3 separate regions of the Homo sapiens genome follow, and all the other regions are reported to be linked to region 3. The links are microRNA targets in miRTarBase. Many come from high-throughput screens and were not tested one by one. Region 3 holds a microRNA gene; each other region holds the end of a gene's coding sequence.
The links. Region 3 holds the annotated microRNA hsa-miR-4295 (CAGUGCAAUGUUUUCCUU, at 1,865-1,882, opposite strand). A microRNA usually pairs through its seed, bases 2 to 8, with sites in the 3' UTR of a target mRNA and lowers its output. Matches are read on the target gene's strand: a 7mer-m8 pairs with bases 2 to 8, a 7mer-A1 pairs with bases 2 to 7 and ends in A, and an 8mer does both.

Region 1 (3,000 bases), not on the chromosome of region 3:
CACCTACAACCAGAAGCACTCGCTCTTTAACGCCATGAATCGCTTCATTGGCGCCGTGAACAACATGGACCAGACGGTGATGGTGCCCAGCTTGCTGCGCGACGTGCCCCTGGCTGACCCCGGGTTAGACAACGATGTTGGCGTGGAGGTAGGCGGCAGTGGCGGCTGCCTGGAGGAGCGCACGCCCCCAGTCCCCGACTCGGGAAGCGCCAATGGCAGCTTTTTCGCGCCCTCTCGGGACATGTACAGCCACTACGTGCTTCTCAAGTCCATCCGCAACGACATCGAGTGGGGGGTCCTGCACCAGCCGCCTCCACCGGCTGGGAGCGAGGAGGGCAGTGCCTGGAAGTCCAAGGACATCCTGGTGGACCTGGGCCACTTGGAGGGTGCGGACGCCGGCGAAGAAGACCTGGAACAGCAGTTCCACTACCACCTGCGCGGGCTGCACACTGTGCTCTCGAAACTCACGCGCAAAGCCAACATCCTCACTAACAGATACAAGCAGGAGATCGGCTTCGGCAATTGGGGCCACTGAGGCGTGGCGCCCGTGGCTGCCCAGCACCTTCTTCGACCCATCTCACCCTCTCTCATTCCTCAAAGCTTTTTTTTTTTTTCCTGGCTGGGGGGCGGGAAGGGCAGACTGCAAACTGGGGGGCTGCGTACGTGCAGGAGGCGCGGTGGGGCTGCGTGGAGGAGGGGGCCACGTGTGAGAGAGAAGAAAATGGTGGCCGGAGATGGGAGGGCCCAAGGAACCTCCTGGGAGGGGGCCTGCATTCTATGTTGGTGGGAATGGGACTGGGCTGACGCCCTGCATTCAGCCTGTGCCTTTCCTGGGGTTTCTTTTCTGTTCTTTTCGGAGGAGAGGGCCCGAGAAGGGGCCATACCAGGGCGCGGCGCTGGGTTGCCACACTTGGGAAAGCAGCCCGGAGCTGGGTGCTGGGGAAGGCGGGGCGCGTAGCCTCCCGCCGCCCTGCGGTTGGGCCGGTGGAGGCCCAGGCGTTGCTAGGATTGCATCAGTTTTCCTGTTTGCACTATTTCTTTTTGTAACATTGGCCCTGTGTGAAGTATTTCGAATCTCCTCCTTGCTCTGAAACTTCAGCGATTCCATTGTGATAAGCGCACAAACAGCACTGTCTGTCGGTAATCGGTACTACTTTATTAATGATTTTCTGTTACACTGTATAGTAGTCCTATGGCACCCCCACCCCATCCCTTTCGTGCCACTCCCGTCCCCACCCCCACCCCAGTGTGTATAAGCTGGCATTTCGCCAGCTTGTACGTAGCTTGCCACTCAGTGAAAATAATAACATTATTATGAGAAAGTGGACTTAACCGAAATGGAACCAACTGACATTCTATCGTGTTGTACATAGAATGATGAAGGGTTCCACTGTTGTTGTATGTCTTAAATTTATTTAAAACTTTTTTTAATCCAGATGTAGACTATATTCTAAAAAATAAAAAAGCAAATGTGTCAACTAAATTGGACAAGCGTCTGGTCCTCATTAATCTGCCAATGAATGGTTTCGTCATTAAATAAAAATCAATTTAATTGATTTACTAGCAAAAGTAAATTTTGTGTTCTCTCTGGTATTTCATGGTGGTGGATATTCATCTGTGCAAGTATTTAGCTTTGTTTGGGAACTAGGTACTGACAAAATTTACTTCCAAACTTTATTTCTAATTCAGTACCAAGATAAGACCATACATCTCAACAAAAAGTTCAGAAATATTTAAAATATTTGGGAAGGTACATATATTGTATCTTTCAACCAATTTGGCTAACTTATTGGAGTGCGTAATTAACATTTTGAATTTTTTAAGAAGCTCAAGCACAAGCTAAAGTGTTTTGAGGCATAAAAACAAGGCTGAAATTTCACTTGGTTACTGAGAAGTGAAAATTAGAAGGGAAGACCAGCTAATCCTAGTGCACACACCTTACAGGTTTTTATGTTTATCTGAGTAGACATTTAAATGCATTACAACATGATCGATGACTTCTTTCACTAGTTCCAAAAAGGGCTAAGCTTTGTTGAGCGGCGTCCAGTAATGCTTCCAGTTTTTCAGTGAGCCAGTCTGCAATTGTGGACAGCAGTTCTGATCAAGGCTGCTGTGGAGCCCTTGGGAATGCTTAGGTGCCATTATGATGCTCTGCTGGGATGGTGGGAAAGGTAAAAGAATGTGCTCTGCATATTCTTTATTTCATTATTTGTTTTGGGGTATAAATGTCAGATCAACTTGTTGAAGTCATGAGGCATTCTCTAAGCTCGTAGGGCTTGAATTTAAAATACATATAAGTTAGCGGTCTTAAAAAACAAGCAAAATGTTTTGTGGTGCTGGCGGGCAGGGGCAGTTCAAGTCTATCAGCTTTTAGCAGCAGTGAAAAAAAATGTGGAAGTGTCAAGATGGGTGCTTGCCAGTTGCCAGAGAAAGTTAATCTTTAATTTGTATAAAGATAAGCTAGGCAGCACCAAAAGTAAGGCATACAGCCTCTTGTCTCGTGTCCCCTTTAAAATATCAAAGTGCAAGCAAAAAATAAAGGAAACTGAAAAAAAGAAAAAAGCTGCATGGTAGAAACACAAAGACTTTCAAAGACTTTGGAGCCAGAAACTGTGCAAATCCTCTTGCTACTAATTGTGTGCATTTAACTTCATGCCTGTTGCCACATTAGTAATCAGGCATAAAAATAACTACACTGCTTCATGGAGTTGCAGTGAGAATTAAATGAGATTATATATAAAGTGTTTGAGGCTTAAAATTTTCTTTAGGCACTGCTGAAATGCTTTACAAGTTTCTCTCTTTTTTGATGTTTACAGTGATTACATTTATCTAAGCAACTTTCATACATGTTCAGTTTTAACATATTGACTACTCTGACAAATATGCTTAAAAAAAGCAATAACATTATAGAGTTAATGCAGAGTCCTAAGGATAGTCTAGTAGCCACTAAGTTTTTTCTTAAGTCTTCACTTTAGATGCTGTTATTTCTAGCACAAGCAA
Region 2 (3,000 bases), not on the chromosome of region 3:
GTTCAAGTGATTGTCCTGCCACAGCCTCCCGAGTAGCTGGGACTATAGGCACCCACCACCACACTGGCTAATTTTTGTATTTTTAGTAGAGATGGGGTTTCGCTACATTGGCCAGGCTGGCTTGAACTCCTTACCTCAGGTGATCCTCCCACTTCGGCTTCCCAAAGTACTGGGATTACAATAGGCGTGAGCCACCGTGTCTGGCCTAAATTTTGTTTTTAATTAGGGAAAGGAAAGGGCAAAGGGTTTGAGTTGCTGTCTGAACTGTGAGAAAAATGGCTGTAATATTTTTCTACCTTTTCAACTTTTTAAAACTAATCTTTCTCATTATCCTCAGATCATAGGTATATTGAACTGTTCCTGAATTCATGTCCAAAAGGAAAATAAGACTCTAGGGGCTCCAGATAATAAGGTAAATTTAAGAGGTAATACTGTGGGCTGGGTGCAGTGGCTCACACCTGTAATCCCAGTACTTTGGGAGGCCAAGGTGGGCGGACCACCTGAGGTCAGGAGTTCAAGCCAGCCTGGCCAACATGGTGAAACCCTGTCTCTACTAAAAATACAAAAATTAACCGAGCATGATGGTGGGTGCCTGTAATTCCAGCTACTCAGGAGGCTGAAGCGGGAGAATCACTTGAACCCGGGAGGCAGCGGTTGCAGTGAGCTGAGATTGTGCCACTGCACTCCAGCCTGGGCAACAGAGCGAGACTCAAAAAAAAAAAAAAAAAAGAGAGAGATACAACTGTGGAAATTATTTGCTATTGATAAACTAATAATCATTCACTCACTAATTTGTAATATGGTAGAAACCATTCTCTTTTTATTTTTCAAATTTTTTTAGGGACTAGGTCTTGCTCTGTTGCCCAGGCTAGCAGTGGTGCGATCATAGCTCACTGCAGCTTCAACCTTCTGGGCTCAGGTGATTCTCTCACTTCAGCCTCCCAAGTAGCTGGGACTACAGGTGTGTACTACCATGCCTACCTAATTTTTTAATTTTTTGTAGAGATGGGGTCTCACTATGTTGCCCAGGCTGGCCTTGAACTTCTGGCCTTAAGTGATCCTGCTGCCTTTGCCTCCCAAAGTGTTGGAATTACAAGAGTGAGCCACCCCGCCTGGCACCATTCCTTTTTAATAAAGATCAAACTAATGATAATTGAAGTGTCAATATAAGGAATGAAAATTCTCGCTCTGGCTTCTCAGATGTGGGGGGCAAAAAAAAAAAAAGAAAATTCTGCTGGGAAATAGAATTAATTATGATATTTTTTCATTTTTTTTAAATTTTATTTTATTTATTTATTTATTTTTTGTGAGATGGAGTTTCACTCTTGTTGCCCAGGCTGGAGTGCAATGGCTCGATCTCCACTCACTGCAACTTCCACCTCCCGGGTTCAAGAGATTCTCCTGCCTCAGCCTCCCAAGTAGCTGGGATTACAGGCATGCACCACCACGCCCAGCTAATTTTTGTATTTTTAGTAGAGACGGGGTTTCTCCATGTTGGTCATGGCTGGTCTTGAACTCCTGACCTCAGGTGATCCGCCTGCCTCGGCCTCCCAAAGTGCTGGGATTACAGGCGTGAGCCACTGTGTCCGGCCTACTTTTTATTTTTTTTGAGACAGAGTCTTGCTTTGTTGAGCAGACTAGATTGCAGTGATGCAGTCTGGGCTCACTGCAAACTCCGCCTCCTGGGTTCAAGTGATTCTCCTGCCTCAGTCTCCCGAGTAGCTGGGACTGCAGGTGCCCGCCACAATGCCTGGCTAATTTTTTTGTATTTTTAGTAGAGATGAGGTTTCACCATGTTGGCCAGGCTCATCTTGAACTAACTCCTGGCCTCAAGTGATTTACCTGCCTTGGCTTCCCAAAGTGCTGGGATTACAGGAGTGAGCCACTGCTCCCAGCCATAATTCCTTATGATTTATATGGTAGCTTTGAGCATTATCTCCATATAGAATTTTTATGCATAATTTCCAACATCATGCTGTTTGCCAAAAAATAGCCACCTTTAGTAGCTATAAATCGTAATAGACTGGATATGTGACTTGCATTAGCTTTTTTTCCCCACTTAAATTTAAACACGTTTTCCATTTTCTCAGGTTACTTTTGTTTTTTTTTTTTTTTTTTTTTTGATATGAAATCTCACTCTTTTTGCCCAGGGTGAAGTGCAGTGGCACAATCTCAGCTCACTGCAACCCCTGCCTCCCGGGTTCAAGTGATTCTTCTGCCTCAGCCTCCCAAGTAGCTAGGATTACAGGCATTCTCTACCACATCCAGCTAATTTTTGTATATTTAGTAGAGACGGGGTTTCACCATGTTGGCCAGGCTGGTCTCAAACTCCCGACATCCAGTGATCCGCTAGCCTCAGCCTCCCAAAGTGCTGGGATTACAGGTGTGAGCCACCACGCCCAGCCATTTTCTGTTTTAAGGTATTTTTAAAAGGATACCATGTGAAACCAGAGTGTATCATCCATAAACACAGTTAATGTGCCACTGTTTCCTTTTCCTAAAATGGCATTTTTTTTTTGCCTTAGGAAGTACATAATTTTATAGTGTTAACCTACCCGTGAGATTTGCTTAATACATCTTGATGTTCCTTGCCTCGATTAAATATATGGTGTCTTTTTTTTTTCCCATAAGGTATTGTAAGTATTACTGTTGTATTGCAGTCACTTTTCTACAGGTAATGGCTCATTCTTTTGAGACACTTACCTGTAATGATTTCTTGAAAACACATGGGGCCAGGCATGGTGGGTTACTCCAGTAATCCCATTACTTCAGGAGGCTGAGGCAGGCAGATCACCTGAGGTCAGGAGTTTGAGACCAGCCTGGCCAAAATGGCGAAACCCTGTCTCTCCTAAAAATACAAAAATTAGCTGGGTGTGGTGGTGCATGTCTGTAGTTCCAGCTACTGGGAAGGCTGAGGCAGGAGAATCACATGAATCTGGGAGGCGGAGGTTGCAGTGACTGAGATGGTGCCACTGCACTCCACCAGCCTGGATGACAGAA
Region 3 (3,200 bases):
TTATTGGCAGTTCAAGTTCTTACTTTGTATTTCTTTCCTACATTCTCCAAACAGTCTCCTTTGAGATCCTCATTCACTTTCATGGTTTTTAAATATCATCTCTGTTTCTATGCTTAATCTGTTAAAAACTATTCCAAGTTTTACTCCCCATTTCCTATTACATGCTGGGTAGTTCACTCATCCCTTAAATTCAGTGGGCATGAATAAAAATCACAGCTTCTTGCTATGTGCCTCTTCCCATCAGCTAAATGTGGGCGAATCAAGTGGGTCTCTTGGGACTCACACATATCAACTCAGTTTGAATCTTCCTTTATTTTGCTTCCCATTTTGAACCAGTCATCGGGTTTTCTCAAATCTTTCTTTGAATTATCTCTCATACTTGTTTCTTTTCCATTCCTACTGTTGTAACCTCTCACAAAGACCAGTGCAAAAGCCTCTTAACTGGTTTCCCTGTCTTCATTGTCTACAACCATCAGTACGTCTCGATTGTTTGATCTTTCTAAAATCTTCCTAAAACACCACTCTGGCCATGCTCACCAAGAAAAATCCAAGGTTTAAGCCAGCATTTAGAACCTTTCAGAATTTAGGCCTAAATACTCTTTCAGGCTTCTCTCTCAATTCTCTCTGGCATATATTCTAGACTTGGCCACCTCTGAGCTTTGACCCTTGCGGTTCCCTGTCTGGAATGCCTCTACCAATCTCCAATCCGTACAATCCTGCTGACTGCTCACGGTTCTGCTAAAACACTACATCTGCCATGAATTCTGCATCTGCCTTTACCAAAGGGATCTTTCTCCTTAAATTCCTCAGCACGCTGTCTCATCTCCACAAGATTTACATGCCTGCATTATCCTCTTTACCAGAGTAAAAGCTGCTTGAAGGCAGGAAATGTGTTATCTTTTATTCCCCCCAAATAATGAGCACAGTGCCTGGCTCATATTATGAATAAAGGCACCTCCAGCCCCAGCTTTCTGAACTTTGCAGTTACAGGCAACAACAAGGCAGTGAAAACTCCGGCAAATGTCCGTAGGAGACTCCTAGAATTAGCTCCTCTAATGCTCCTCTGTCTGCCTATTTTAACAGTTAAGGAAGACACAGAAAAAATGTTGGCCACTCAGTCCAGGATTCAACCCCAGAGTTTATTTATTATGCATGTTTATGTATTCAGATTGTGAAGGAGGCAATGGGCATGGATTGTAAATTGATGGCAAACTTAATGAAAAGCAGACAAAACAGTGTAAGAAGGCTTAAATGCCTTTTAGAACATGGCAGATATATAAAAAAGTCATAAGAAAGTTTACAATAAAGAAAAGAATGTGGAAGAGTGAGAGTCAAAAAAGATAATTACGTAGAAGATTTTTAAACAGCTTGTCTAATGGAGATGCTGAGTGATTAAGACAAACAGCTTGCCAAACCACCTTGTCACAGGGACATAAATCTGAAAAAGCAGCAGACTCCTCAGAAAGGTCAGACAGATCACATTTAGTTTCAAAAGGAAGAAAACATGAAATTCGTGTGTGTGTGTGTGTGTGTGTGTGTGTGTGTGTATGTGTGTGTGTGTCTGTGTGTGTGTGTATAACCACCGAGAGGCAATGGTATGATATTGATAATCTTTGGAGAAAGAAACCTTCTGTATTGTCAAGTGACTTAAAACTCGAGGCACAATCCAAAACAAGAATTAAATAGCACAGCATAGTGTAGTCAACACCATATGAGAGGGTGCCTTCAGGGCAACACACACTGCTGCCAGAACACCAACCAAAAAATGGACAATCAGGATCTCAAAAGAGATGAGTCACCCAGAGGGTCTCTGTAGGAACAGTCTAGTTTCTTAGCCTTGAACCGAAGTGGTCTTGCCACAGGCAAGGAAAACATTGCACTGTTCCACAAAGTCAATTCTAAATGCATAAGCCATTGAAGCATATTTCTTATGGAATAAAGACTGAGGAGAAATAAAGGTTGAGTAATGAAAGTAAAGATGCAACAAAACTTTTAAAGTGGCCAATCTTGCTCATATAATGCTTGCAACCAAAAGGGAAGAAAGCTCTATTACTCTGGGAAAAAGGTGTTTGGATACACCACTAAAATAGGAAGCCTAAAAGAACCATTGTTTTATAATTCTGAGTTAACTGTGATCCTTTTTCCTTTTTTCCGTTTGTTAACTGATGGTATTTTCTGGAGTGAGTCATGACTTTTTTTTTTTTTTAGTCTAGAGCCAACTTGATAATGCTATTTAAATAAATTAACTAACTAAACTGCAAAGTATAAGCTCTTATGCCCATAAAATAAGAGAAGAACTGGGAAGTTCACCAACAAGGATGAAATAGGAGAGGCATTTAATAAAATTTGGTGACAGAGTCAGGGTAAGGTAACTCTCTCAGTGACACATTTATGTAATGCTAGTCTTCTCTGCATGGGAGACATTACTTTTTGGGGGCAATGCCCTTTTCCTCACCACTGCTTTTCTCCAATCTCTTCTTTGACTTCCTTTTGGGATCCCTGGGTATCCTGCTGTGTTGTTCCAGCCCCGGTGTTTTGCCTGCTATCTCTTTTCAATGTCTGAAGATCAATTATCCCTTCGTGCTAGCATAGGGAGGACAGAAATTCTGGGGACCACAACTTTTCCATTATACTTGAAGGAAAAAAGCAGCTCTCTCCTGTAAGATGGAGAATTCGGAGGTTTCCTCACAGGCTTCTGGTGATGCTTAAAGCAGAGAATCAACCTACAGGGTTTTAGCACAGTGCCTGGCACATGCGGAGTACTCAAAGGATGTGAGCTAATCTTCTTCTTACTATTATTATGTAAGTCCCGTAATTCTCTATGACCCACTATGTGTTCCAGATGATGCCGAAGACCTAGAAAAGTGGCTTTCATCACCATCAGACCTCTCCTCTCCTTCAGACCTCTCCTCTCAGGACTCACCATGTTGGTCAGGCTGCTCTCAAACTCCTGACCTCGTGATCTGCCCGCCTCAGCCTCCCAAAGTGCTGGGATTACTGGCATGAGCCACCACGCCCAGCCCAGACCACCTTTTTGTAACAAATATTTCACACAGGATTTTTAAAAAAGAAATCAATATAATGCCCTAGCTGTAATATAAATACAGGAAAATAACTTACAACAAAATAAGAAGTATTTCTATTTGTAAATACCCAGGCATTACTATACTAATAGATACAACTAAGTAAGTACATGCTTG

Region 1: miRTarBase lists MID1IP1 as a target of hsa-miR-4295. Seed matches in the 3' UTR shown: 8mer at 1,027-1,034.
Region 2: the mRNA of GRSF1 is a reported target of hsa-miR-4295. The part of its 3' UTR that is shown has no 7-base or 8-base seed match.

Annotation. Positions count from the first base shown.
Region 1 is chrX:38,804,964-38,807,963 of GRCh38, forward strand. It overlaps MID1IP1 (MID1 interacting protein 1), which reads left to right. Exons shown (of 3, transcript NM_021242.6): 3 at 1-1,569. The coding sequence ends at 535. Among named protein-coding and RNA genes, the nearest start is that of MID1IP1-AS1, 2.6 kb to the left of the region's middle.
Region 2 is chr4:70,821,706-70,824,705 of GRCh38, reverse strand. GRSF1 (G-rich RNA sequence binding factor 1) reads left to right here. Exons shown (of 10, transcript NM_002092.4): 9 at 338-412. The coding sequence ends at 387. Among named protein-coding and RNA genes, the nearest start is that of GRSF1, 17 kb to the left of the region's middle.
Region 3 is chr10:112,632,862-112,636,061 of GRCh38, reverse strand. It overlaps MIR4295 (microRNA 4295), which reads right to left and starts at 1,892; the gene lies at 1,808-1,892. The region is part of intron 5 of VTI1A (vesicle transport through interaction with t-SNAREs 1A); the gene reads right to left. LOC124902503 (a long non-coding RNA gene) reads right to left here. Exons shown (of 2, transcript XR_007062292.1): 2 at 1-3,200.